4 linked regions of the Homo sapiens genome follow. The protein of the gene in region 1 purifies or fractionates together with the protein of each later gene. This does not show direct contact. Each region holds a gene or a part of one and is shown in the gene's direction. Other genes may lie near its edges. The genes, in order: TNIK, NCK1, CPVL and NCK2.

Region 1 (7,095 bases):
CTGAGGTCCTGCAATGAGCCAGCCACACACTCCAGTCTGGGTGACAGAGAGAGACTGTGTCTCAAAAACAAAACAAAACAAGACAAAACACCATTACAATGATTTCCTTAGAATACTGTTCCATTGTCTATTAGCATCCATTGTTGCTGATGAGAAGGTAATCCAGTTAAGATTTACTTTTTATCCTTCATGCTCTGAAATCTCACTGTGAGGTGTTTAAGTGTGTTATTTTTTACCTATGCATTTGGCTCAGAGCTAAATGAGAGCTTTTTACTTAAAGATACTGGAATATTTTCTTTTTTTCATTCTTGTTGCCCAGGCTGGAGTGCAATGGCACGATCTTGGCTCACTACAACCTCCACCTCCAGGGTTCAAGCAATTCTCCTGCCTCAGCCTCCCTAGTAGCTGGGATTACAGGCATGCATTGCCACACCCGGCTAATTTTGTATTTTTAGTAGAGACGGGGTTTCTCCATGTTGGTGAGACTGGTCTTGAACTCCCTACCTCAGGTGATCCGCCCTCCTCAGCCTCCCAAAGTGCTGGGATTACAGGTGTGAGCCACCGTGCCCAGTCAAGATACTGGAATATTTTCTACCATTTTTTGAGTATTTCCTTCCATCCATTCTCTAGATCCCTTATCAGATGAATATTGGGCCTTCTGGATTTATTCTCCATGTTACTTAAATTACTTAAATGCCTTGGACTAGGTAATTTATAAACAACAGAAACAGAATTGCTCACAGTTCTGCGGCCGGAAAGTCCAAGATCAAGATATCAGCGGATTTGAAGTCTGCTGAGGGCTCCTTTCTCACAGATGGCCCCTTCTATGCATCTTCATGTGGTGGAAGGGCGAACAGGCTCCCTCAAGCTTCTTTTCTCAGGGCACTAATCCAGTTCATGAAGGATCTGCCCTCATGATCTAATCACCTCTTAAAGGTTCCACCTCTTAATACTATCACTATGGGGGTTAGGTTTCAACACATAAATTTTGGGAGACACAAACATTCAGATAGAACAAATGCTTAGAAAAATATCTGCAGCATAGTATTACTTATTATTCAAATTTTCTATTCATTTTTATAAAGAGGGTCTCCCTCTGTCGCCCAGGCTGGAGTGCAGTGGCTTATCTTGGCTTGCTGCAGCCTCAACCTCCCGGACTCAAGCAATTCTTCCACCTCAGCCACCCTAGTAGCTGGGATTGCAGGGGTGTACCACTATGCCCACCTAATTTTTGTATTTTTTGTAGAGATGGGGTTCTACCAAGTTGCCCAGGCGGGTCTCGAACTCCTGGACTCAAACTATCCTCCCAACCTGTCCTCCCAAAATGTTGGCATCACAGGTGTGAGCCACCACCGTGCCTGGCAGAAATCTTTAGCAAAAAAATTAGGTATCATTGTTGGAGTCTCCTTTTCCTCTTCCTCTTTTCTCATTATCCTGAAGTTAATCTGTATCCTTACTGCCTGTATCCATGCTTTATATAGTTTACTACATATTTATACATATGTAAACAGCATAGTGTATTATTCGGCAGGTTTTCAAACTGCACATAAATGGTGTCAGTTCTCTTAATCCTTCAGATTACATCAAGAAAAAAATCTCAAGTCTTGAATGTTTTTCCTGGTATTTGCTATTCTCTCTTTTAACAAACTAAGAGTAGGCCTTAGGCTAGAAGCCCAGAGCAGGAATTGATGGCTAGCTAGAATTTAATAATACTTCTTTATTTTCCATTATATTTATTTTAATGGTTTCCTCCCCCCTTTTTTTTTCAAAGCAAGTGTTGTTGGCTTTCCATTTAGAGTAGTGATTTATGTTTTCTTTTATATTAAGTGTAAGAAAAAAGTGTTGATTTAAAGAAAAATGTTAAGTAAGTGGTAAAATAGTACAGGCAATACAGAGACATAGGAAAAAATTAGGAAATTTATACTGGAATAGCTGAAATTTGATACACACTTGACCAAAAGGAAAAAGTTCAAGTTCCTCCTTCTCACCTTCCTTTACCAGTTGGAGGTCCCTTTGATACTGCAATCTCTCCTTTTATGGTATTTCCTGCAGCCCACACCCCTGCCTTCCCCTGGCTGTCTCATCAACTTCTCAGGCTCTTAGGAAGCCCTCCTCCATTTAGCACCTGGCATCATACTGCATCTATAACTTTCTCATCTAAAACTAAACTAAATCTGAATGCCAACTTGGCACCCTCGTGGCCCAAACAGCTCACTAATGTCAAAAAAGTTGATCTGTTTGTGATGTTTCAAATATAATCATGAGTATAAAACGAAGGCTTTCCATGGAAAAAATATTTAACTCATATTTCCTTATGTTTGCAGTTTTAAAAAAATAGTTGTTTATAGATCTTAATACTTGATCTTAAATTATCTTCTTTCAACCCTGAGACAATACATTAACCTGTTGTCTAGATGAACGGTAAAAAAACAGGAACACAGAAGAGAAAAAAACAAAGACAATGATGGGAAATAATCTGTTTTTTTTTTTTCATTTCGACGTGGTGGCTTACTGCACGTTACTTACTATGTCGAACCAGATGATTTTAGTAAAAAATGAGTTTAGTAATTTAGTATAACACGTTCAAATGTTTACATACAACGTTTACAGGCAAAAGCTACCAAACTGTTGTGGCCATTGAGATGTTGGAACAATTTTCAAGTTTCATGGTGCATGATCCACAATGCATATGAATACATACAATATCAGTAACAAAAACAGTACAATGTACACCAAAGGTTGTTTCAAAGTCCTCTAATGTCTGCAGTCATGATGAACTAACTGCACTGGCTTTCATTCATTCATTCATAAGACTTATTTTGAAGCTGATCTTCATACTGCATGATTAAGAAACCATCAGTGCAGTGGTCAGAATTACATTCTGCTGTTAACAGAGGAGCAAAGAATGCTTTCAAAGCTACTGCTGTATTTGGAAAAAAGTTCAGTTTTAGTGTTTTCTTTCTAGGTATTTTGCATGGCTAAGGCGGGAGAAGAAGGGCTGCGCGGGGATTGGGGGAAGCGACTTCCCACTCTTGATTACAGAAGGAGAATCATGTATACCACTGTAAAACATCCAACCTTTAAATGAGAAAGTGAGTGAAGTGAAATCGCTCTCACGTACACATCTTCCGCGTTACTTCTTATCCGCCAGCCAAACTTTCTCCATCAATCTGGGTAGGTCTGCCACGAAAACGCAGCCTGAAAGAAATGCTGAGTCCTGAGGCGGCGTGTGTTGCCTCACCCAGTGTTGGCTTTGGAGTTACCTGAAGCCTTCTAGCTACTGCACCCAGAGAGCAAGCTTCTCGTTTCAACTCGGTTGTTTCCGTGGGGAATTGCGGCACGAGCAAGTCCTGGGTGTGGCGATGCCAAGAGAGCGCTCAGATCTCCCATCTTTCCCGCTTCTGGCAAACCTTCCCAGCCCCGAATCGGCGAGTGACCAGCACCCGGGATCAGCCGTCCGGCATTCCGGGGACCGCGGGTGGACCCGACCCCGCCGCAGCTGCAAACTGCCGAAGCGCCCAGCTGGGTGCACTGTGCGTGTGCGCTTCTTCCCTACTCTTTCCGCGCCTGGAGGCGGATCCCCTTCCTTGCACACAAGTCCTTATATGCACCGGTTGCACCAGCCCGCGTTACTCCGGCCCCACAAATAATTAATGGGGGAGGGAGGGTGTCGCTTTTTTTTCCTCCGGCTTTTTCTCAGCGCGAGAGCATTTGAACCGAGGAGAAACCCCAAGACGCGACTGAAGGGCCATTTTGCTGCAGTGCACGAATTGGCCACACAAAAATAGAGCTTGGGTCCCTATGATAACAAGTCAAGGTTCAGGAACAGCCCCTTCGGGTTCGGCCCGAGGAGCCCGCAAAAGCCTGGGCGGAAAGGGTGCGCGCCCCTCCCCCCTCCACGCTGGTGCAGAGGGACCGGGTCAGGAAGCGCGGCCTCTCCCCAGTCCAAGACCACGCCTCCTCCGCCTCCCCACTCCCCCTTCACTCCTCCCAGGAAGCGGTGATAGACAGTTCTGCGTGGTTCTCCACCCCCACCCTCCCCCTGCTGAGTGGAGGAGTTGATGTGTCTCATTATAACAGCCAATGCAGCCGCCATCCACGCACAAGCAAAGAAGCATGTCCCATTTAAATACACCCACGCAGCCCCAGCGCCCTTAGCCGATCGGGGCGCTCAGCCCACACGCACCGCTGCTCGGGGCTTGGAGATCCGCGCAGGCTGGGCTCCCGGACCCGGCGGACCGACGCGCGGAGGATCGGGATCCGGCGCTGTGGGGCTGGGGTGGGCGGGGGAGGCTGGGCCCGGGGCCTCTGGCGCGACACCCGCATGAGGACGCGAGTGAAATAGACCAAGGTGGAATTTCCAAGGGAAAAGCTTCGGGGTGGTTTTGGTCCATTTCTCCAGCGAAGAAGTAGACATGGCGAGCGACTCCCCGGCTCGAAGCCTGGATGAAATAGATCTCTCGGCTCTGAGGGTGAGCAGGACGTTTTCTGGTTTCTTTCCAGTGGTTTGGGTTAGGGTGAATGGGCTCGGTGCGTGGACTGGGGGCTGGGGCTGGGGCAGGGGGACAGCAGCGGGAGAATGCGTCGGGGAGGGAACCTGGATTCCCGTTTTGATTCGGGGTTGCTGAGGTGCTCCTGGCTGAGCCCCTACGGCAGGGGCTGTGCGGTACGTGTCTTCCTCTGGCCGTGGCTTAGGCTCTCCCGAGGGCTCGTAGAGCTTATGCCAGTTTCATCTTATACCGGTGTAAGAGCATTAAAATGAAAGGCGTGTGTGCGTGTGTGTGTGTGTGTGTGTGTGTGTGTACACGCCCCGGGCAGTTGTCTGGTGCCAAGGCGCGAGACCCGACTGTCCCTTCTGCAAAAAGAATGCCAGCGTGAATAAAGGCACTGGCCCCTCACGTTTTCCAGCTACCTGCAAGATGACATTGTGAGGCTGGCTGTCCCCGCGAAGCCGAACCTGCCGCTCCAAGGGGGCAGTTATTGCTATGCTGGTCTTGTAGATGGCAACTGCCTCCCCCTCCCCCTTTTCTACCTCCCGCGCCCGGGCGCCCTCTCAGCGCTCCCTTAAATGCCAGTCTGCCACTCACCTTTATTTATGGCTTTAACTCAGCCCTGCCTGTTCTTTCTGACTTTGTGGCTGTAACGTTTCAGTTTTATGGCTGAACTTAAGCAGGTGAAAGGGATGTGTTTTCTGCTTTTCCTCAATCAGACCGGAACTCCCTGGAGTGTGTGCGAGTGTGTGTGTGTGTGTGTCTGTGTGTGTTTTCCCCGTGTCTGTGGCCAGTCCTTTGTAGAGCACCTCCCTCCCCCCAGCCCCACTGGTTTGCGTTTACCTTCACGTGAATTACCTCAGACGCCGTTTCATTGTATTGACTAAGACATCACTGATATAGAATCCATTTTGCTGTTGTTTTGAGATCAGAATACCAGGAATCCAAGTGCTGCTTCGACGCTTCCCCACCCCCAACTCCCGATCCCAACACACTCCTTTGGGGAAGGGGGCAGAGCTTTCTTGCCATTTTAATTAGATGCTGCCTGCCTGGAAGGGGGTGAGGGGTGGGGATGGTGGCAGCAGCGGGTGTCTGAGAAGGATTGGACACCAATTTAAGGACTGCTTCTTCCTCTCCCGAACCAAAAATAAAATTAAAAAGAAAGCGAGTGCATATACTTGATGTATGGAGGGTGGATGAGAAGGAATTCATGGTGGCTCTCTACAGGGAGACACCAGGATGGATGAAGCATGGAAGTTCACACGCCCTCCTGAGGAATACATTGTTAGATTGATGCTGAATCTTGGGGCCATTTACCTGGATTCCTAGTACTTCTGACATTGCCGCTATCTGCACTGATATATTAAAGTGCTACCTTTGTGATCAAAGTGGTACTTTCTCTTTGGTCTCCTTAATTAAACCTTTTCCTCCACATCTCTTTGAATAAGTCTTTCTCTCTTCGTCTTAATCTGTTGGGCTAAGAGATGAGGTTTCAGCAAGGCAAGTAAGGAGTTGAGAAGAAACAGAGATGCCGTTTGAAATGGGCTGTTCTGATAGTTGGGCAGCCAAAGCTCATTCATGCATTATTACAGGAAGCTGTCTATTTCCCTGGAGTGGAAATGCCACATCAAGAACCGGCTGCCCCCTGCGCAGCGGGGTGGGGTTGGTAACAGGGTGGGTGCATTGGCCAGGTCTGTGGCTTCCTGCTTTACCGACTGTGTGTGTTCATTTGCCCTACTTTCTACGCTGGGAGTTGCTGCCGGCGAGTTAATCAGGTGGATGGATGGCCCCGACTGGGGGTGGGGTGCTGCGAATCGGTCGGAGGTCGGGGTGGGGGGCGGGAAGTGGCAAAGGGGGAAGGGGTCTGAACAATGCGCAGGGCTTGCGGTGATTTCCCTGGGCCGGAATCTCGACCTTGCTCCTCTACTGGAAAGCAGTCTGATGTGATTTTAAGTTGGGCCGGGACTTGTCCCTTATGGGCTTTTTCCTCGGGAAGGTTTTCTGAGATACCAAGCACGGAGCCTGCAGGCAGGGGAGCAACCGGTGAGGGCCCACTGGGCGGACGACTGCGGTTCACACTTGGGATGTGCTTTCTTGTGATCTGTATTTTGAAAATATATCTTTGCACAATTCACTGAAATTGCTCTTTGTGGCCTGGGCTATCAGCTTAGGGCTCTGCTTCTGTTTTTCTGCCTGCTGGGAGGTGTGGAAACAGAGAGGGCAACAGCTAGCTTGGGGACCAGGAACTGCTGGCTAGAAGACTTAGATGCAGATGTGGAGACAGTTATATCCTGGAGGGCCAGGGTCTTTGACCAGTCTTGTGGGTGAGGTGTGTCTGCTGGAGTGGGTCCAAAGGCCACATAGGTAATCTCCACAAATCAGAGGGCAGATCATCTCCACCTTGCCACATTTGGAGAGGTGGCCTCATCTAGATGAGATGTCTCATTTGTTCCTAAGCCCTTGGTAAAGTCTGCCTGCTGAGCCCCTCCTGGGGAATGCCTGACCCCTGAAATGCAGCCAAGGTCAGTGGCTTCTGGGAGAATTTGCTGCAGACTTACCAGTCCCTCGCTGTTTCGGTGGCTCTTTAATGTACACAGTCAATGCT
Region 2 (7,311 bases), about 35 Mb from region 1:
TCTCATTGCCTATAGGATAAACTCTAAGGTGCCTGACTTCCATAACCTGGTTATTGATTATATTTCTAGCTATCTTCTGCTCTAGCAATATTCTACTATCGTTTAATACCTTTTTATTATGCAGGCTCCTCTATGTGGACAGATTTTTTCTAGTTAATTGCCTGACTAACCTGGCCACACAACTCCTTTCCCCTGTGGCTTAATGTCCTCCTTGCACTGGACTGTCTATAACAATTTCTAACTATAAGCTATCAGGTTTCTGGGAAAGGTCTTGACATGGAGGCTCATTTTTCCCTTTCTTGTGTTCCCAAATTCTTTTATTTTGGATTAATAAAGTAAGCCACCTGCGTGTTTTTAATCATAGACAGATTAGCTGCCCATATCCAAAGCTCCACGTGTAGTCCCTAGATAAGTTTTGTTTTTGTTTTGAGATGTGGTGTGATCATAGCTCATTGCAGCCTCAAATTCCTGGGCTCAAGCCATCCTCCCACCTCAGCCTCCAGAGTGGCTGGGACTACAGGCACATGCCACTATGCCCAGCTGATTAAAAAAAATTTTGTTTTGTAGAGACAGGGTCTAGCTCTGTTGCCAGGGCTGATCATAAGTTTTGACTTACATTTTCTTGTTGCCTGATTCTGGTTAGTCCCTGATCCACTCAGCACTAATTAGCAAGGATGATTCCTGTTTTTGGTTTGAGTTCCCCTGAAAGAGAGGAAGCAGCAGCCATGTGCATGTTTATATTTGGAAGCTGGGGAGACAGACTGTGTGAAAGGAAGTCTCTGGGACAGCTCCCACCCCATTAAAACATGTACTGCATCCCTTCTAAGTGCAATTACATACATGCCTTTCTGCCTATCTGCCCTTCCAGTCTATGCTTTCCTTTTTCATTGCTGTTTGCTTATTTTTCTTCTTTGACTCCTCTTTTGCATATATTTTTGGAGGTTTCTTAAATTTTTTTAAAGAGTTCCTGTTAAGAATGAGTGATGAGAAAGATTAAAGAAGGAAAATTAAGAGGATAAACTAGCTGGGTGCTGTGGCTCACGCCTGTAATCCCAACACTTTGGGAGGCTGAGGTGGGTGGATCACCTGAGGTCAGGGGTTTGAGACAAGCCTGGCCAACATTGTGAAACCCCGTCTCTACTAAAAATACAAAAAATTAGCCAGGTGTGGTGGTGTGTGCCTGTAGTCCCAGCAACTTGGGAGGCTGAGGCAGGAGAATTGCTTGAACCCGGGAGGTGGAGGTTGCAATAAGCTGAGGTGGTGCCACTGCACTCCAACCTGGGCAAAAAAGCGAGACTCCATCTCAAAAAACAAACAAACAAACAAAAACCCTAAATGTATGACTTCAGCATACTTTTTGCTGGGTTAATTTTCCCCACTTAAGGTGGTGGTAAGCTACATGAAGGCAAGAACTGTATTTCTGTATTTTACCTGTTGTATTTATATTCACACCTTCTGCCTCCATCGTATGTTAAATATGTAATTAGAATTAAAATTGAGTCACGCTGTGCTAACAGTTTGATGGGTGATTTTGCAGCAACAGTTTTAACTCTGGACAAGTTTCTTCAAAAATGAATATAATATCTCAGTCTGTAAACTTTATAAAATGTATCAACAAATAAAACCATTGTATTAGCTTGGGCTGCCATAATAAAATACTAGATTGGGTGGCTTACACAACAGAAGTTTATTTTTTCAAAGTTATGTAGGTTGGGAGGTCCAAAAGAGGGTGCCAGCATGGTCAGTTTTGGGTGAGGGCTCTCTCTCTGGCTTGCAGATGTCTGTCTGCTTGCTGTGTTCTCAAATGGAGAGAGCTCTCTGGTGCCACTTTCTATAAAGACATTAATCTTATGGGATTAGGGCCCCACCCTTATGACCTAATTTAATTTTTATTACCTCCCTAAAGGCCTAGCTCCAACTAGAGATGGTCCCTGACTTAAGATTTTTTTGACTTTATGATGGTCCAAAAGCCATATGCACTCTAGAATCTGTACTTTGAGTACCCATAAAACCATCCAGTTTTTCATTCAGTATTTAGTAGATTACATGAAATACTCAATACTTTATTAAAAAATAAGCTTTGTATTAGATGATTTTGCCTAACTGAAAGCTAATGTAAGTATTCTGAGCATGTTTTAGGTAGGCTACTCTAAGCTATGATGTTTGGTAGGTTAGAAGCATTAAATGCATTTCTGACTTAAGATCTTTTCAACTTAAGGTATTTTCAGTTTATGGTGGGTTTATTGGAACATAACCCCTTTGTAAGTTAAGGAACATTTATATAGTCACATTAGGAGTGAGGGCTTCAGTATGAATTTTTGGGGGGGATGCAATTCAGTCCATACCAGTCATGATAAAATATGCAGTTATTTAAACCCTTAGAATAAACTCAAAATTCACCGCCATTATTCACTTTGGATGCTAATAACAGAATGTAGACATAGAGTAGCTGTTGCCCAGTTTCATGGTCTACTTGTCCCAGTCAACCTGAGGATAGTACAGCATAAATAGGTAAATTTGTGCTTGACCTTGTGATCCTACATATGGCAGGCTGTCTTAGTCCCTTTAGTGTTGCTAGAAAGGAATACCCAAAGCTGGATAATTTAGAAATAGAAAAGGTTTTTCGGCTTATGGTTCTGATGTCTGGAAAAGTTCAAGACTGAGCATCTGCATCTGATGGTAGCCTAAGACTGCTTCTACTCATGCCAGAAGGCAAAGGAGAGCTGGTGTGTGCAGAGATTACATGGCCAGAGAGGACGCAAAAGAAGAAAGGAAGTGCGACGTTCTTTTTAACCAGCTCTGGTGGAAATAAAGAGAACTCATTTACCCTCTCCCCAGGGAGGACATTAATCTATTCCTGAAGGAACCACCTCCATGACCCAACACTGCCCATTAGTCCCCACCTCCAACATTGGGGATCAAATTTCAACAGGAGGTTTAGGGGAACAAACATCTAAATTACAGCACAGGCCAACCACATGCATGCATTACCAATCACGTAAATAATTTTGAAGTTAAATGCAGAAAACTGCAAACTTTTGAGGCTGATATCCAGGGCCAGGATTAAAATAAAAAGTATTAATGCCTTAAACAGTATTTACTGACCATCTACCCTACTGCAAGGCCCTAGGGAGAAACTGAACAGACATGGTTACTGATTCAACGGAGTTTACAATCTAGGTAGACATACAGGCAAACCATTTCAATAGCTCGGATGGAGAAAACACCTGTGCTCCAAGGAAGGTACCTAACTGAGCAAGCTTCCCTGAGGAGCGATCCTAAACTGTGCCACAAAGATGGTTAAGAAGAGATGAGGCGGCTGGGCGTGGTGGCTCACGCCTGTAATCCCAGCACTTTGGGAGGCCGAGGCTGGCGAATCACGAGGTCAAGAGATCGAGACCATCCTGGTGAAACCCCGTCACTGCTAAAAATACAAAAACATTAGCTGGGCGTGGTGGTACATGCCTGTAATCCCAGCTACTCGGGAGGCTGAGGCAGGAGAATAGCTTGAACCCGGAGGCGGAGGTTGCAGTGAGCCGAGATCGTGCCACTGCACTCCACCCTGGCGACAGAGCGAAACTCGTTTCAAAAAAAAAAAAAAAAGAGGCAGGTTACGGCGCGGGGGCGGGGAAGGGGGCCTGCAGCACCGGCGAGGGGAAGAACCAACTTACTGATGCCTCAGCCAGTGGCTGGAGCCCTAAGAATGGACAGACCTGGCTCCGAAGGTCCTCTTCATAACACTACTGCCGCCAAGAATGTAAGCTGCCCAAGCACGAGGACACTTTTAGAGGGCCCTCAGACTCAGCTTCTTTTGGTCTGTGCCTCAAATTAAGCACATGTCTTACATTTCTCCCAGGTCCCAATTTTCAGGTCTGCTTTTCTTTGTTTTTCTTTGTCGCTCCCCGCTCCTAAGAACCTTCGGCTGGGATGACATTCTTCAGGTGCAGAAACCAGGGGGAAGCTCCCAGAGCAGTGGGGGCTGAACTCAGGACACAGTCATTTTTGCTGTTAAGTCTCTCCTGCGGCGCTGAGGAGGCAGGCTCAAAGTAACCAACCAGAGCAGCCGCAGAGGGAAAAGCTAAGACAGTTCTGGTCCGGCCCAGCGCTTCTCACCCTCTAGCTCTCTACTCTCCGCCGCGCAGCCTCCGCTCCCTCCACATCAGGCACGGCGCTTGATTGACATGAGGGCCCGCCCAATCCCAGTGCGGCAGAGACCGTTGTCGCGTCAGGGACCGGGGAAGGGGGCGACTGAACCTATCAGATTGGGTCCAGAGTGGGTTTCCTGCCCGCGCGGATCCGCCTGCCCACCGCGCGTGCCCCGCCTCTCTCCCAAGAGCTACGCGGCGGCGGCGGAGCGCAGGCCTCGTGCCGTTACGGCCATCACGGCGGCCGCAGTGGCGTCCTGGAGCCCTCCTCAGGTGAGCTGGAGCTGCCCGGCTCGGCAGCGGGAAGGTGAGACGGCCTTGTTGGCAGGCAGACACACACACACCCCCCTTCAGTCCGCTGTCCGTCCATACAGCCTGTTACTCGCTGCGTCGCTTCCTCTTCTCGCGCTGAGTTAGCCCCGGGGGCGCCGTCTGCAGGCTCGGAGCCGAGCCGGAGGGGGCGCGGAGGCTGCTCGGAGGGTCCAGACTTCTGCACCGGGATTCCGCGAGACCCTCGGGCCGTTGCCCCAGGGAGCGTGACCCCGCGGCCTCCTTGTCAGCCCCTGGAGCGCTGTGTCGGGCTGAGAGCCCGGGCGGCCGCCCGTGCGAGCCTGGGAGGTCGAGTGTGCGGCGCGCTGGTTGACTTGTCTGTTTTCTCATGAAAAAGTCCTTTTGCCAGCTGTGGCGTAATCCGAGGCCGGGAAGGTAGGGACGTGGTAGGAGGAAGGGCGCTCTCACCTCCAGCCCGAGAGGAGGGGAGGCGTCAGCCTGCGCGGTGCTGCGGGTGGACATCTTCGGGACGCGCCCTCTCCCCTCCCCCCACCCACCGGCCGTTTTCTAGTCTGGGGCTGTGACTTTAATGGTCTGGACCTGCTTCAGATTCGTACGCGAGTTGCTGGGGCTGTGAACTTTTGACTTGAGTTGTAATATGTTTGGTAAAACAAAAAACCATTTCGATAGGTTTTGTAACCTTTCTTCTGTATTAACATACAAGTTAAATTCGCCGTTAGAAGCTCAGGAAGCTGGGTTTTGTTCAGGGGTGAGGACGTAACCGTAGGAACGCTCTCGGTGTCAAACTGATGGACCCGGAGTCACCTGAAAATAATTATGCACGTTAGATTAGGTAAGAAGCCCTAGAAATTAGGAAAGAATTAGGTTAAAGAGAATTTCCTAACTCCTCTTTGGGTAGGGAGCAAAGCAGCTCAATGTCCTCCCAAAACGGGTGTTGCCAAAAGGTACTCATTTTTAAAATTTTACTTTGATAGACGTATGACAAACCAACTATAACGATTTCTTCAGCACCTGGAAACCAGTGTGCCTAGACTCTCAGCCTTCGGCGAGGTCACACAGTAAACGGAGAAATAACCTAAGAAGAAAGTTTTGTTTGGTAATTGTCAATAATATTCGTTCTTTTCTTTTTAAAACACTTAATTTTCTTGTGGGGGGTGGAGTCTGTGATATTCTTAAATAGGCATCCCATTCACAACTTGATAGTAATATGCACTGGTTGATAAATGGTGCTTTCTTTTCATCTTGACCACAAACTCTGAGACTTCTTTGGGAAAATTGTGATCTGTGGAAATTGGCTGTAATATCCATAAACATAGTTTGCAGAGTGTTCACATCTACTCAGCTGTTGGCTCATGTATTAAATTTTAAAATGTGTACTTATTTTTCTAGGCATTATCTTTTGTCCAGGTTTTGACAGTGCTTTCAGGTCCATCTAAATAAAATTTGAAACCTACGTGTAATGTTTTGTTCGATACTGAGGGAGTCCAGGCGGGGTAGCTCAAACCTGTAATCCCAGCACTTTGGGAGGCTGAGGCGGGCGGATCACGAGGTCAGGAGATTGAAACCACCCTAGCAGACACGGTGAAACCCCGTCTCTACTAAAAATACAAAAAAGTAGCCGGGCGTGGTGGCGGGCGCCTATAGTCCCAGCTACTCGGGAGGCTGAGGCAGGAGAATGGCGTGAACCCGGGAGGCGGAGCTTGCAGTGAGCCGAGATCGCGCCACTGCACTCCAGCCTGGGCGACAGAGCGAGACTCCGTCTCAAAAAAATAAATAAAATGTGTATTTATTTTTCTAGGCATTATCCTTTGTCCAGGTTTCTGCAGTGCTTTCAGGTCCATCTAAATAAAATTTGAAACCTACGTGTAATGTTGGCCGGGCTCGGTGGCTCACGCCTGTAATCCCAGCACTTTGGGAGGCCGAGGCAGGCGGATCACGAGGTCAGGAGATCGAGACCAGCCTGGCCAACACGGTGAAACCGCGTCTCTACTGAAAATACAAAAATTATCCGGGCGTGGTGGCACGCACCTGTAATCCCAGCTACTCGGGAGTCTGAGGCAGGAGAATTGCATGAACCCGGGAGTCGGAGGTTGCAGTGAGCCAAGATCGCCACTGCACTCCAGCCTGGCAACAGAGCAAGATTCCGTCACACACACACAAAAAAAAAACAGAAACAAAAAAAACCTATGTGTAATGTTTTGTTAGATACTGAGGGAGACCAGGCGGGGTAGTTCAAGCCTGTAATCCCAGCACTTGGGAGGCCAAGGCGGGAGGATAGCTGGAGGCCAGGAGTTTGAGATCAGCCTAAGCAATGTAGTGATACCCTGTCTCTAAATTAAGAAAATATAAAAAAATTTAAAAAGGAAAATAATAAAGAAAAGAGATACTTAGTGATACTTCATGGTTCTGGGTTTTTTTCTTTTCTTTTTTTTTTTTTTTTTTGAGACAGAGTCTCTGTTGCCCAGGCTGGAGTGCAGTGGCACGATCTTGGCTCACTGCAACCTCTGCCTCCCGGGTTCAATCGATTCTTGTGCCTCGGCCTCCTAAGTAGCTGGGACTACAGGTGTGTGCCACCATGCCTAGCTAATTTTTTTGTATATATATATATTTTTCTTTTTCTTTTGTTTGTTTTTTTTTTTGAGACGGAGTCTCACTCTGTTGCCCAGGCTGGAGTGCAGTGGCGGGATCTTGGCTCACTGCAACCTCTGCCTGCCGGGTTCAAGCAATTCTCTGCCTCAGCCTCCCCAGTAGCTGGGATTACAGGCGCCTGCCACCACGCCTGACTAATTTTTGTATTTTTAGTAGAGGCAGGGTTTCACCATCTTGGCCAGGCTGGTCTTGAACTCCTGACCTCGTGATCCACCTGCCTCGGCCT
Region 3 (7,992 bases), on another chromosome or scaffold:
AGGGCTTGCTCAGCTGTCCTTAGTGGCCATGTCTATATTAATCCCATAATTTATCCTTAAATCACCGAAGTCTTATTTGCCTGGCTTTTTCCATAGCCGAAGGGAAACTGAAAATATGCCTTTTGTAAGAAAGCCTTAACACCTGCTGCTAAAGGGCGCTAAACCATCTGGATCGTCAAAGGAGTATAGGCTCACTTACAAAAGACGTAGATTAATTTGGACATTGTTTCCCTACATAAACCAGGCATAAGGAGGCAAGCAACCCAGGGAAGGATAATCATGCTAAGAGTGGAAGCACTTATTAGAAATAATTACCATGTAATTATCCACAACTTCCCTGGAGTCTGTAGCCTGTGGCTAGTCTTAGGAGGTGCCCCTTCCTTACCAAGTACAAGGAGACTGAAGCACTTCAATAAGTTGATCAGGGCATGTGTCTGTGTCTTAGAGCTTGGTTACCGCCACCTGGGCCTACTTCTCACTTAATGAAGCCTTCAATGCTTATAGCTGAGGTGCAGAACAGCTGTAGACTTTCTTCAGCTGGATCTACCACCCACCCCTCCCTTTTTTAATAGCACAGTGTTGTTTTGCAAGTGTGTGGGTGTGACACATCTGGCTTCGTTCCTTAAGAAAAGTGTTTATTGAACAATTAATTGTGGTGCATGGGGGCTGTGACATTTCTCTTTTCGCTGTGCCTCTGAGCTGTGTTTCCAGGCTACCCGGTGGCCCCATTGAAGATCAGTAACAACACTGAAAAGGAACAATGGCTATAGAAGCCTTGACAAGTGCAGGGAGAGACCTAGACACTTCCAAGAGGGGCATGATTGCCTACAAGGTTAATCAATTCCCCTTGTTTCCATTGCAGCTCCACATTTATCTTGCTGGCAGCAGCTGCAAATGTAAAATCAGACCTACAAACTTAGACAATTGGAATTGTATTTACCTGATCAAGATGTGTAAATGATCTATTCTCTGTGTCTTCTTAACTGGAATTTAAGGAGTTCAGCAAAGCTCCGGCTATAGGTCAGTGAGAAGCATGTTTTTGTGTGGTGTCCAGATACAATTTAGTTGTCTTGGATAGACAGTTGGAAAGAACTGCAGTCACAGCCTAGAATCTTGATTGTCATGATCACCATTATTATTGTTACAGCTGCCATTTTTTGAGCCTTTATATATGACAAGCACTTTATATGTACTACTATCTTATTTCTTCCTCTTGATAATACCGCAAGATAGCTAATAGTATTTTTATCATGTACAGATGAGAAAACTGAGATTAAGTAACTTGCTTATGGTCATTAGGTGCAAGGTTCTAGATTCAAACTGAGTCTGACCCATGCTCTGAACCACTAGGGCTTAACAAACCCAAACCTCACTAGAATATGCAGGTGCAGAGAACACAAGGGCTTGTGATCGACCTGACAGTTTTAAATCTTGTTTTCAGGAAAGCCAATCAAAGAAGGCTTAACGAATCTCTTTGCAAACCGATTTGTTGGCCAACCTTTGAATATTCTCAATACAAGAGAAGGGCTAAAAATATCTATTGCAGCAGTGAAGTGGCCTTATTTTGAAAATGAGTCTTCATAGAAGTAATCAAGCTAAAATGAGGTCATTAGAGTGGACCCTAATCCAATGTCATTGGTGTCCTCATAAATAGGTGAAATTGGGACACAGAGACAGACACATGGAGGGGAGACACTGTGAAAAGACACAGAGAGAAAGCCCTGGAAGGCTGAAGCAGAGATTGGGTTGATGCTGCCACAAGCCAAGGAACACCTGGGGCTACCAGAACCTAGAAGCAGCGAGGAAGGATCCTTCCCCTCCAGGTTTCAGAGGGAACCTGGCCCTGCTGGCACTTTAATTTCAGACTTGTAGCCTCCAGAACTATGAGACAATAAATTTCTACTGTTAATAGCTGCTCAGTTACAACCTCCCTGGAAAGCACATACTCCTGTCCTATGGTTCTATTCTGTTCTGTACTATTTTGTTCTATTTTATTCTCTTTCATTAAGAAAATGGATTTCCAGGCTGGGCACGGTGGCTTACACCTGTAATCCCAGCACTTTGGGAGGCCAAGGCAGGTGGATAACTTGCGGTCAGGAGTTCGAGACCAGCCTGGCCAATATGGTGAAACCCCGTGTCTACTACAAATACAAAAAATTAGCTGGCTGTGGTGGCGGGTGCTTGTAGTCCCAGCTTACTCGGGGGGCTGAAGCAGGGAATCGCTTGAACCCGGGAGGTGGAGGTTGCAGTGAGCTGAGATTGCGACATTGCAGTCCAGCCTGGGCGGCACAGTAAGACTCTGTCTCAAAAAAAAAAAAAAAAAAAAAGGGAAACAGACTTCCCAATCTACTAATTTTGAACAACATCAGTCTCTAGAGCTCAGCATTCTTGCCCTTTCCAAGCTGGCTCCAGTCTAATTTTCTAACCTCAGTATTAGTTAACCCCCGACCCACCCTGAACACGCCTGGTGTCGCACAGTCCATCTGTCCAAGAGCACAGCATCAACCTGAGTGCAGGTGGCCTGCTCATTGCCTGTGCTGCCACCTTTCCCCTCAGTGGCTATTCATTTTTTAATGTCTAGCTTCAAGTCACCTCCTCTGACAGGATTCCCCTGGCTCTTCGGGCAGAGTCATTTGGTCCCTGTCCTCTGTTCCCCCACACACACACTTTATCAGCCCCAATTACAGCTCTTATATTGTATGATGGGATCAATCTGTGTGTCCCCTTCATCCCTTCCCCACAACTAAACTTCAAGTTCCCTAAAGAAGACTATCTTTTTTCTTGTTTTTTCTTTTTAATCAAGTGTCTAGCACAGAACCTGACACACGACAAATCCGAATACAGGGTACCCCAAAAAGGTCAGTGCAGTTTTAAGCTTTAATAACTTCTTAAGTCGAAATGCTACAAACTTACAAAACTCATTTGAACGTTTACTTCTTTTGACTCTGTTTTAATTATTTTAATAAATGTAATTTTCTCTTCTGGTTAATGTATGCCATATTTCACTCAGGGGAACTGAAACAAAAATTAAAGTTAAAACGTGTTATTCAACATTCACAGAGATAAATAGTGTTAAATTAACTTTCAAATGGTGTTCTTATAAGTTGCAGCATTTATAGCCTTGAGGTTACTAAAACTGCAGGAAGACTTTTGGGACACCCTGTTTTTGAATAAATATGCTTACAGCATGGCTCCTCCTGTGTTTACTGTAAAATTCAGTTTAGTTTTTAAGTGGTTCCACGTGGGCACAGGTATTCTTTGGCCAGTAGTTGTCCTTATACTTAGACCCAAGGAGCCCTTGTCCAGGGCCCACACTTTAGAAGGCAAATTCCAAATTCCCTCCCCAAATGGCACTGAGCCTGCTTCAAGGGTCTGCACGCCAGCAGCAGTGTTATCTGCTAATGTCTGTACTCCCATGGGCGAACATTGCTGACTCTGGTGTTCATACTCTTGTGCCCAAGAGGTGGCTGGGGGACAGCTGCTTCTGGGAAGCTTGACCGAGCTTCCACCAATGGACTAGAGCCCTGTGGGAAGAGAGGAGGTGGCTGCAAACCAGGAACTGGAAATCGCCTCTCCCTGCACCATCATATTTAAGTGCAGATCATCCAAAGTTTCAATCTGGCCTTTCATGTCAATTCCCAAGGTATATTTGTCTAGGTAGGAAGGTAGAACTTATTGTACTTAATCATTTGTTAACTTTGTTTATAACTTTTAAATATTTAGGTATCTGGCCTACAGATCTCTGTTTGTACTTTTGCCCTGGGTCCTGCATATATTAAAGGTGGGCTGATTTTGGCCTTAAAAGAATTATTTTCCCACAAACAGATTTTTCTCCTTAAAGAGCTAGGTGGGTAGGAAGTACTTCCATATGGAAGGTATGATAGCAAAGAATGACTGCAGTCACTGAGCACATACTTTGTGCTGGGTGATTTACACATAGTTTTTCAGTGAGTCCTCACAACAACCCAATAAAGTAGGTACTTAGGAGAAAACAGATATTCAGTGACATTAGTTTGTTCCAGCTCGTAAAACTAGTGCTTTAGTTAGCCTTAGTTGCATAACAAACTACGCGAAACTGAAAGTGGCTTAAAACAATTTTTCCCCCTGACTGTCGGGTTGGCTGGGCTGCTCTACTGCGGGTTTCCCTGGGCTCACTCCTGCAGCTAGCTGTGAGGAGATGGAGGTTGGCCCGGGACAGTGCAGAAGATTCCCCGTGGCCTCTCCCACCTGTCTGGCAGTTGACGCTGCTGTTGCTGATAATGATGACCCTCCTTTATTTTGTGTTATCTACTTGCCATTGCAACCTCCTTGCCTTTTTTAGTTCTTGCTCCCGTACTGTCTGGCTCGATGCCCAGCACCTGGTGGTGGCTAATAATATACACTCAGGTCACTTACAAGCAATGTGACCCTGGATGGGTTACTTAACCTCACTTAGTTTGTGTCCCCCAATTGCAAAATGGGTATAATGGTACAGAACACATCAGGTGGCTCTGAGACTCCAGCGCAGTGATTCAGGAGAGTGCTTGGCAGGACAGTGGCACTTGGTGCGAGCTTACTGCTAGTGCAGCTGGAATGTAGACCATCAGCGAACGTGTGTTGCCTTTTTAAACAGTGGGAATCAAACACCACTCGCTTTCCAAATGTAAATCCTGGGCTTGCAAGTAAGTCCTAGAGTGCAGAAATAATTTCAAAATACAGGGTTGAAATTTTAAGATAGCAGCTTTTAAAAACTGGGAGACAAAATCAAAATAAAACAAAGGGACAAACCAACCTGAATGGCACCCCGCCGATGCTCTTCATTAATTTTTAAGATTCCACCCTGGGGCTGCTTGCTTCTTCCAGCATGGGAAGCGCTGACTTGATGCGGCCAGGTTTCTGGGACCAGGAGGTTGGGACACGACGACGCACTTTTTGCCCTGTGGGTCTGGGTCATGTGAGCCTAGAGGAGCGCTTAAAGGCTCGAGTTCTGCAGGGTCCTCGTGACTGGGTGGGGCTGCCTCACTTCTGCCTGATTTGGGAAGCGCTGCAAGGACAACCGGCTGGGGTCCTTGCGCGCCGCGGCTCAGGGAGGAGCACCGACTGCGCCGCGTAAGTGCCGCCTGCCCTGCGTGGGTCGTGCCAGCTCAGCGGGACAGGTCCTCGCCTCGGTCCCTCGGACTTAGGGAGCGCGGGGCAGGTAGTCTCAAAAGCCCTCAGCACCAACAGGGGAGAAAGCACCGTAGAGTGAGACTGGAGTGGGGTGGTCGTGGCCGAGTCAAAGTTCAAATTGGAGCATTGGGGATGTACTGCGTGCGCCCAGCCGAGGGAATACTCTTGAAGTTTCCTGGCACAACTGTCGCACCCGGGGTTCTTCCAGGCTAGAAGCCGTCTCCTACTCCAGGAGCTCCTCCGGGGAAGTACGAAGCTGTGGGGTCCTCTGCCGCTCTTAGCGCGGGAGGGTGGCGGGTGCAGGACACTTTCCCTTACTCCCTCAACGCGTGTTTTGGGGATGTGTTGATTTCGTGGGTGCTCAGAAGCAAGAGAAGCGGAAAATACCTTCTATTTTGAACGTGCCCAAAGCAGGGAAACTTGGCTTCTGCCTAGGAACGCATAGGAAGACTTTTATTCTTGGAATGTAGGATTAGCAGAAACCAAGGGCACAGGAGACAGGTGGAAGCAGCTCCCTGTGAAGTGATACAGAAACAAAAGGACTTTGGAATATTTGTGGATTTAAATCCCAGTTCTGGCCTTGGCTAGTGAGTGACCTCGGGCAAATTATTTAAGCCTACTAAACCTCAGTCTTTCCATCTGAAAGATGGAGATAATAAGTTTTTCTTTTTAAAGAATTGTTTTATTGGAAATAGAAATAACATACAGAAAATGCCTCCCTAGCACGGGACTTGGCTTTTCAGCTAAGTGTAATTTTCCTTATCAGTTATGATTGATGATGAAGTCTATGGTGAAGACAGAACAAAATAATGTTTAAAACTCTGGCCATATAATGACTGTGGCTATGCATGACCCGTGTGCAGTCACCTCTGAGCCCCCCACCTTCACTGCAACCCCAGTGGGTCCCAAGCAAGGTGCTTGGGTTTTGGAGCTGGACAATTCTGTGCAATTCCTGGTTCCGGTATCCACTACTTGGATGACATCAGGGACGTAACTTATCTTCCACAGCCTCAGTTTTGGCATCAGTAAATGAAAAAGGAGCCCCTCAGTACTTGCCTTTCCCTTCCCCGGCTAAATGTACAACTCATTTTTTTTCCATTCTTTGCTTTGGGATGAGTAAGAACAAAGATGTAAGCAGAGTAAAAAGTCCATTGAGAATACATTTTATTAGCTTGGTAAATAACGTTTAAGAAAGTTGTCCAAAAGGAGAATTGGAGCACTTTTGGAAAAGTACACTGCACCGGCTTTGTTGGCATATGAAAGTCTGCATGGTCGTCAAGACCGTTTGGCTAACTGGGCATTCTAGATGTGTACCTCATGCTAGTCTAAGTACAGGGGCAACCCTTTATAATGTAGTGTCAGTGTTCTTAACCAGATGTTGTTTTATTAATCTTTTATAGGAGATGATTGTTTGGGAGGGGCAATTGATCCCCCAATTTATATAAATCCAGTTTATAAATCACTTTATAGTGGGATTCTACTAGCCTGAGAAATAGGTGGGTTTTGACTGACAGTTTGAATGACTTAGAAGAGTGTTAAGAAAGTCCACTGGGTTTACCAGTTCACTCCCCACAAAAAATAAAAACAAGAAGCAAATAATATAACAGAATTCTAAAAATGAGTTTGTTTTTGTTTTGGGAAGCATCTAGTTTGTCAGAGGAAACACTGAGTGTTGAATACTACCCTGGGATGCACAGAACTAAGGCAATGAGAGGGGAGGAACTCAGTTCTTGCCCCAGGTATCATCAGATATCTGTTTATTAGCACCCAAATACTCAAGGTAAATAGTAATGACCCATTCTTTCTTTTTTTGAGACAAGAGTCTCACTTTGTCACCCAAGCTGGAGTGGCACCATCTCTGCTCACTGCAACCTCCATCTCCCGGGTTCAAGGGATTCTTGTGCCTCAGCCTCCTGAGTAGCTGGAATTACAGGTGTACACCACCATGCCCGGCTAATTTTTGTATCTTTGGTAGAGATGGGGTTTTGCCATGTTGCCCAGGCTGGTCTCGAACTCCTGACCTCAAGTGATCCTCCCACCTCGGCCTTCCAAAGTGCTGGGATTACAGGCATGAGCCACTGTGCCTGGCCAGTGACCCCTTCTTAATAGGAAGTATGGTTCACTAAAGAGCAAACATGATTGTTTTAGTTTACCATTTCCGATGGCTTTATAATGTGAGATTTTCATTGACTGAACTAAGAACATTTAAAAGAAGTAGGCAAGCTTCTCAGAATTAGAAAGATACCTCTAGAACAATGACTCATTAACGTCTATATTGACTTGTGAGAGAGGTAAGCTGGGCAAAAAGCTAAGAACTGTACTTTCCTGGTAAAAACAGTAGTGGAGTTTGAACTTTTATACTATATTTGCAAGCTCAAAGATGTAAGCCTTAATAGACAGTTCACAAGACAGCTGTTACAGCGTATCTGAACTGAAACCAGGGTATTGAGATTGCTCTCCCTTAAGAGATATTAGAGGTATAACCTTGAACATGAAATCACATGCTTTCATTGCTTTAACTCAGACCCTGGGGTGCAGGACAGGGTGGTGGTAGTGAAAGAGGGGGAAGGACTGTGTCCTTAGATCTTGGAGCCTGAAAAAGCAAATTCTTAGCAGCTTATCTTTCCAATATAGTTGGAACTTACCTCCTACCTTTTTCTCTCTAGTCTGATTCTAGTTATTGGTTGTCTTTAAATTGCTTAGAATTGTTTACAGGCCAAAATATTTACTTTGAACCCTAAAGGTAAGCTCTTCCTCCTTTCCTTTTTGGGACTCTGTATCCCATTACCCCTCTTTCAAAAAGATAGTGCCACATATCTTTTTGTACTGTATGATTCTTGGGAG
Region 4 (6,883 bases), on another chromosome or scaffold:
AAGTACCCACTTATCGCGAGCACAAATTGCAAAGAGATGAGGTGTAAGAATTACCTAAAGGAATGAATAATGGAAGAGGTAGTCAAAATTAGAAATTTTTAAGTCTGCACGTTTGTTGAACACCAGATACTCTGAGCCCGGTGTGGGGATGTGGAGCTAAATAGGGTTCTTGCACTTAGTTGTATTCAAACACAGAATCTAAAGCCTAAACAAAAATAATGATGATAGAGGCCCCGAGAGAGGTTGGTTTTCCGCCAACCTATTAATTGTCCTTAGATTCCACTTGGAAAATGACTTCTGAAAAGAAGGGTCAAATGAATGGGTTGTACTAATTGTTCATTCTCCAGAACCATTGATTCAAAAACTATGAGAATGGAAAAATCATTCCTTATAAGGAGTACTCATAGAAGGACATAACAGGAAGAAGTGGTCTGATGTTTGAAAATTTGAAGAATTTGCCCAGTAGTCAGCACAGAGAAATTACTATATACCAAGTAAGTACAGTGTTTGGAGATGGAAAGTGTAGGAAATGCGGACAGTGGGAGGTAGCACAAAGGTGGCAATTAAAGAGGAGAAATCAAAGGGGAGATGTTTCAAAACCCGGGGACTGAGTCTAGTTAGGTTTTAGTCCAATCATAGAAAATTGTAATGAGTGTCCTGTCCATCTATGATGGCTTAAAAAGATGTCCATAAATTCTTTGGTACTCTTTGCTTCAGAAGGTGGAGCCTGACCCTCTTCCCTTCAGCATGGGCTGCACTGAGCAACTCACTTCTAATGACCAAGATGTGGCAGAAGCGATGGAGGGCAGCTTCCGAGATGGGCATTGTGGCTGCCTCTTTGCTCTCTCTTGGGTCACTTGATCTAGGGTGAGCCAGCTGTCATGTTGAGAGTACATTCAGGCAGCCCTACAGAGCCCCCTAGGGGTTCATGTGAGCAGACTGCCTTGGAAGTAGAGCCTGCATCCCCAGTCTAGCCTTCAGATGACTGCAGCCTCAGCCAGCATCCTGACTGCATGTTTCAAAAATGTGTTAAGATTCTTTGACAAGCTTAAATGTAGAGTACTCTACCATACTATCAGTACTCTAGTACTTGTTGAGGAGCAAGTGTGGCATGGTCCTTTTTCATCCAATTTCTTGAAATCTGTTCTAGAAAGCCAACCGTGGAAGGACTGCAACAGATGAGAATAGGACTGATGGAGTTGCTTTCATGGGAATCATTCCCTGGCTCCCTCTGGAGGCAGAGTTGTTTTGGGTCGGGAGTAACTCCATCTCCATCAGATGCAGGGACTGGTGGCTCACTTTGAAAGGAGGAGACCATACAGCAGTGTCCCAGCTGTCCCTTCAGGGGAAATTCCCTATGAGAGATGTCTGGAGCAGAGCCAGAGTCCTCAGGACAGAATTGGAAAAGTATCCACAGACTGGAGCTCCCTCCATCATGGGCTGCTTTGCCCATAAATGGCATTCCCATCTTTTTCTGGTGACCAAACATTTGTTGGTGGCTCCAGCACTGCCGATGTTTGTTCCAGATTTTCTTTCTTCCAGTTCTCAAACTGCATCAGAGTCCCCTGAAGGGCTTATTAAAACACACGGTGCTGGAGGTTAAAACACAGATGGCTGGGCTCCACCCCAGAATTTCTGCTACAGCAGGGTTGAGGCAGAGCCTGAGAATTTGCATTTCTTTTTTTTTTTTTTTTTTTTTAATTATTTTGAGATAGGGTCTCACTCTGTCATCTAGGCTGGAGTGCAGTGGCCCTGTCATACCTCACTGTTGCCTTGACCTCCCGGGCTCAAGTGATCCTCCCACCCTGGCCTCCCAAGTAGCTGGGACCACAGGTATGCATCACCACACCTGGCTAATTATTTTAAATTTTATGTAGAGATAGGGTCCCACTATGTTGCCCAGGCTGATCTCAAAGTCCTGGCCTCAAGTAATCCTGCCACCATGGCATCCCAAAGGGCAGGGATTACAGGTGTGAGCTTCCATGGCTGGCCCTTGAGAATATGCTTCCTAACCAGTTCTCAGAGGATGCTCATGCTGCTGGTCTTGAGAGCACACTTGGAGAACATCTTAACTAGTTCATCTTCACACTTCACTTAGAGGTGTTCAGTGGTCATATGTAACGGTGTATGTTAGTATACAGATTGTTCTTTTTCAGATTTCCTACAGAAAATCTACTTAGTTTAAATTAAAGAACACTCCCCAACTTTTAGCACTCCTGCTTGGCATAAATTGGTTCTACATCCTTAACTTTTAAAGGTTTCTGCTCAGGAGCCCACGAAATTAAAAATTACCTCTTCTGCTGCGAAAATTTTATTGCTGCAACTCATGCATGCATACAGGCACACACACACCATGATGTTAAATTAAGGAGCTTGAATTAAAAGCAAATTTCCCTTATGTAGAAAGTCATCTGTTGATCATTTGGCTTAATTAAAATTGGGTGTATCTTACATCTACCATGATTCACTCCCATACTGCCTCCACTAAAAATGATGCCACATTATCTCTAAATTGAGCCTGGCTTATAGTAAACTCTATAAGTGAGACTGCCCTTCATCTTTTCCTAAAGATACAACTTCTAGTACAGAATATTAATCATCTATAGGCTGAGGCCTAATCTGAGATTAACCTTCTGGTTTCTTCCTGGAGTTTCATCCAGGAGTATGCCCTGGGCCTCACATGGGGATGAGATGGGGCTTTTCGCCTCAAAGGTTTGTTCTTATTTGGTCTATTTGAGACAGAGGCATGCATAAATACAAACTATACTTACAATTGTTCCTTTCATTCTTTTCTGTTAACAGCTATGGCTGCTGGGTGAGCCCAGCTGCCTTGCACAATTTGAGTCTTCTCAGACACTCATTCCCCTGAGTTGTCATTGGTAGAAATGGAGTGATTCCTTGTTTTGCAAGGGTTGCACACTTCTCATCAAACATTTATTTGGGCTTTTGTGAACTCTGTAATAGACAATGGCCTAGTCCTTTGTTAACTGTCTGGAGGTCCTGCTGGGAGGTCGCAGAGCAGGGCTGAGCTGCTGGACCCTCAGAGCAGGAAGTTTCTGGGCTTTGAGAAAAGCAGAAAACTGGTCTGGGAATTCCAGGAAGAATTTCGGATGTTAGGCTGTGGTCCTGCCACTGGCCAGGCATGTCCGAGGTACCAGCCCTGCCTCGGAGAGCACATGCTCAGCTCCACATTGTCCAGAGGGCTCTCCTGCCCCCACACGCACTTATACATTCACACAGATGAACTCACACGCTACGCATACTCTCACACACTCTCAATACTCACATACTCCCTCTCACATCTGCGCACGCTCACACACTTAGAGCTGCGGTATCTCATGCTCCTCTTTCATGCAACTCTTTTTTTTGTTTGTTTTCTTTTTTTTTTTCATAGAACTTACTGCCCTGTGCAGCCATCTGTACACCTCTATTTATCTGTTCCCCACACCAGATTGTCACAGAGCATATGTCCTGCATGCACACACATGTATCCAGGGCACCGCCTGCCTGGCATGTGTTAGTAACTAATTGTTATTCATTTAATGAATTGATCAAAACTTGATATTTTTGTACAAAGAACATTTATCGTTCAGTATCTTCTTTCCTGCATGCTTTTCAGCAAATGAGATAAAAGACCAATTTTTTTTTTTTTTTTTTTTTTTTTTTTTTTTTTTTGAGATTTTTCGCTCTTGTTGCCCAGACCAGAGTGCAGTGGCGTGATCTCAGCTTACAACTTCCACCTCCCAGGTTCAAGCGATTCTCCTGCCTCAGCCTCCCAAGTAGCTGGGATTACAGGCACACTACCACCATGCCTGGCTAATTTTGTATTTTTTAGCAGAGATGAGGTTTCACCATGTTGGCCAGGCTGGTCTCAAAGTCCTGACCACAGGTGATCCACCTGCCTTGGCCTCCCAAAGTGCTGAGATTACAGGCGTGAGCTACTGCACCTGGCCAATAAAAGACACATTTTAATTAAAATAATGACATGTTTCTAAAATATTCTGAAATAGAAGGCACATCACAGAATTTAAATATTTTTCAATAAAATCTGTAATCAAACCATAGTTCAGCTTCCTCTGGGATATTGTGAACTATGTTTAAAATGCGACCGGAATTTTCCACTGCTGTTCATATTTTTAAATGCTTAGAATTAGAAAAATTAGCCAGGCATGGTGGCACATCGGGAGGCTGAGGCAGGAGAATCTGCTTGAACCTGGGAGGCGCAGGTTGCAGTGAGCCAAGATCACACCATTGCACTCTAGCCTGGGCAACAAAAGCAAAACTGCGTCTCAAAAAAAAAAAGAATTAGAAAAATTTTGATGTCTTAATTTCTAATAGGGTTAGACATCAGAAGTAGTAAAATTTCTAGCTACTGCCTGCATGCAAACCACTCTTAATAAATTCCCAGTTTATCAAAAAATAGTTTGGGAAATGAAAAACAGCAAATTTCTTGAGCAGTCAGGGCAACACTGTATATTCCATAGTGAAGTGCTGTATATTCCATAATGAGTTTGCACTTTTCAAATAACTAAAACGCATTTAGCACTGAAACTGGGCTAAGCAGAATTTATTTTTTCTTTGGTTCAGAATTTCAGAATCGTGGACTACCTCCAGGTCTTTCTGAACATCAGATGCCGTTCTAGATATAAAACAGAGACCCGGCTGGGCGTGGTGGCTCATGCCTGTAATCCGAGCAATTTGGAAGGCTGAGGCTGGGAGGGGGGTGGGGATCACCTGAGGTCAGAAGTTCAAGACCAGCCTGGCCAACATGGCGAAACCCTGTCTCTACTAAAAATACAAATATTAGCCGGGCATGGTGGCAGGTTCCTGTAATCCCAGGTACTCGGGAGGCCGAGACAGGAGAATCGCTTGAACCCGTGAGGCGGAGGTTGCAGTGAGCCGAGATTGGGCCACTACACTACAGCCTGGGCAAAAGAGTGAAACTCCATCTCAAAAAAAAAAAAAAAAGCAGAGACCCAGTGTTTGAGCAATGGGTGGTTTGGATTTAGACGCACAAGAGATGTGGATGGATTTAGACACAGCTCCCCGCTGTGGCCCGGCTGTAACTGTGTTCTGTTTCCTCCCCAGCCCAGCGACTTCTCCGTGTCCCTTAAAGCGTCAGGGAAGAACAAACACTTCAAGGTGCAGCTCGTGGACAATGTCTACTGCATTGGGCAGCGGCGCTTCCACACCATGGACGAGCTGGTGGAACACTACAAAAAGGCGCCCATCTTCACCAGCGAGCACGGGGAGAAGCTCTACCTCGTCAGGGCCCTGCAGTGACGGCGCCCCGGCCCCACACTCGCCTCCCGGGCCCCACGGTGGAGCTGCCCGCCCGGCCTTGTGGCAGAGGCTCCTCCCGCGGGGACGGCCCCGACGGCTTCTCTGCGAGTCTCTCTTTATGTTCAGGTCGCTTGGTCGGTTCGTCTCCCATTTGCCATCCAGGCCTCACACCCACACTCGAGCCCACCCGGCCGGCCAGCTTTAGAGGAGGGGAGGAGCAGGGCGAGTTCACATTATTCCTTTTCCATCGGAAGTGGCGCTCGTGCATTCAACTCGTTCCCGCTCATGGAACCCCTCTTTAAAAAGACGCAGGGCACCTGTGAGCGCAGGAGCGAGCCTAAGGCCACCCAGCGGCAGCGCCCGTGTCCTGGGCACTCAGCGTGCTGGGCAGAGCAGGTGCGATGGCCCCAGTCCTAGCAGCCCTCGCCCATGTCCTGTGCCCTTACATGGCTCCCGGACTGTGCAGGGAGCCGATACGTTTGCTGATAGCAATACTGGAACCACCGGGTGCGATGGCAGTGAGGAGACTGCCCAGTGCCTTTGGGGCTGTGCTTGCAATAAAGAATTTCCTGGAAAGGCAGTCTGCAAAAGAGGGAACCGGTGACTCAGAAAGACAGATGTTTTGGTAATTTACCCCAAATGTGCCATCCACATAGTGCTTTTTCCTCTTGCCCTTCGGCTTGTTTGAATCTCACAATTATGTATTTAATTCTCAAAGAAATATGTATCTGTAGCCGTTTGTTGACACTAATACAGATGATTAAGGAAAACAGCTGATCTTTGGGGAAGGGAGCTACCAACACTTTATACACACACACACGTGCACACACACACACACACACACTATATATATATATATTATTTACAGGGAAATTTTTCAGGGTTTACAAAAGAGTATGTGATTGGTAGTAAGAGACACACAGAATGTTTATGAAGAAATTGCATTTTCTTTTTCCTTTACATTTGAACTTCTTTATAGTTTAAATATAACGTCTTGAGATGGCACATTCCTACGATTGAAGAAGGGGTCTTGAGATCCCCTAAACTTGCATACCCAGTTTTTTGGATATTGTAATAAAAAAAAGTATTATGACAAGGCTCTGTGTGTATTTATCTTTGGGAAAACTCAGACTCAATCATGGGAGAGTAATTACTGAAGCATTCACTCATTGCGGAGTGGAAATCATTTTTAGAGAAGAGCTTAACATTTATTACTTGTGTGTTTTCATTTTCTACCCCCACATTTTTGTATATTGAAATAATGAGTTTTAATTAGTGAAACCCCAAGGGAACCCAGAATCTCAAGCTTGGTCTGAACTTTGCTCTTTGGAAAATATTTGTTTAGAAATATGTTGCTGAACTCTTGGCAGCCAGCGCTCTCACACCATGTGTCCCCCACGACTAACTCTCGATTTGTCCTCTTGATCGGGAGCATTTATATTGATGTGCCAGGCCCTGGGGGTGCAGAGTCACATGACTTGGCATTTGTGCCCTCCTAGGCCAATCACGTATCAAGCGCTCCCTCTGCACCATGCACTGCGCCCCCATTTGTTCCTCATCACAGCCCCATGAGGTGGGACCTGCTATCATCCCCATTTTA

The links.
Region 2: the proteins of TNIK (region 1) and NCK1 purify together in Homo sapiens (affinity purification with mass spectrometry; 3 studies listed by BioGRID and IntAct, with this or other methods). This does not show direct contact.
Region 3: the proteins of TNIK (region 1) and CPVL purify together in Homo sapiens (affinity purification with mass spectrometry; 2 studies listed by BioGRID and IntAct, with this or other methods). This does not show direct contact.
Region 4: the proteins of TNIK (region 1) and NCK2 purify together in Homo sapiens (affinity purification with mass spectrometry; 5 studies listed by BioGRID and IntAct, with this or other methods). This does not show direct contact.

What each region holds. Positions count from the first base shown.
Region 1 is NC_000003.12:171,457,384-171,464,478, reverse strand, and holds the start of TNIK (TRAF2 and NCK-interacting protein kinase), read left to right. Parts: upstream 1-4,073; 5' UTR 4,074-4,415; coding exon 4,416-4,472; intron 4,473-5,087; exon of another isoform or gene 5,088-5,261; intron 5,262-6,307; exon of another isoform or gene 6,308-6,533; intron 6,534-7,095. UniProt on the Homo sapiens protein: Serine/threonine kinase that acts as an essential activator of the Wnt signaling pathway. Recruited to promoters of Wnt target genes and required to activate their expression. May act by phosphorylating TCF4/TCF7L2.
Region 2 is NC_000003.12:136,857,902-136,865,212, forward strand, and holds the start of NCK1 (SH2/SH3 adapter protein NCK1), read left to right. Parts: upstream 1-4,306; 5' UTR 4,307-4,452; intron 4,453-4,547; exon of another isoform or gene 4,548-4,850; intron 4,851-5,244; exon of another isoform or gene 5,245-5,268; intron 5,269-5,410; exon of another isoform or gene 5,411-5,532; intron 5,533-7,311. UniProt on the Homo sapiens protein: Adapter protein which associates with tyrosine-phosphorylated growth factor receptors, such as KDR and PDGFRB, or their cellular substrates. Maintains low levels of EIF2S1 phosphorylation by promoting its dephosphorylation by PP1.
Region 3 is NC_000007.14:29,143,525-29,151,516, reverse strand, and holds the start of CPVL (probable serine carboxypeptidase CPVL isoform b precursor), read left to right. Parts: upstream 1-4,979; 5' UTR 4,980-5,088; exon of another isoform or gene 5,089-5,396; intron 5,397-7,992. UniProt on the Homo sapiens protein: May be involved in the digestion of phagocytosed particles in the lysosome, participation in an inflammatory protease cascade, and trimming of peptides for antigen presentation.
Region 4 is NC_000002.12:105,887,894-105,894,776, forward strand, and holds the end of NCK2 (cytoplasmic protein NCK2), read left to right. Parts: intron 1-5,088; coding exon 5,089-5,283; 3' UTR 5,284-6,379; downstream 6,380-6,883. UniProt on the Homo sapiens protein: Adapter protein which associates with tyrosine-phosphorylated growth factor receptors or their cellular substrates. Maintains low levels of EIF2S1 phosphorylation by promoting its dephosphorylation by PP1.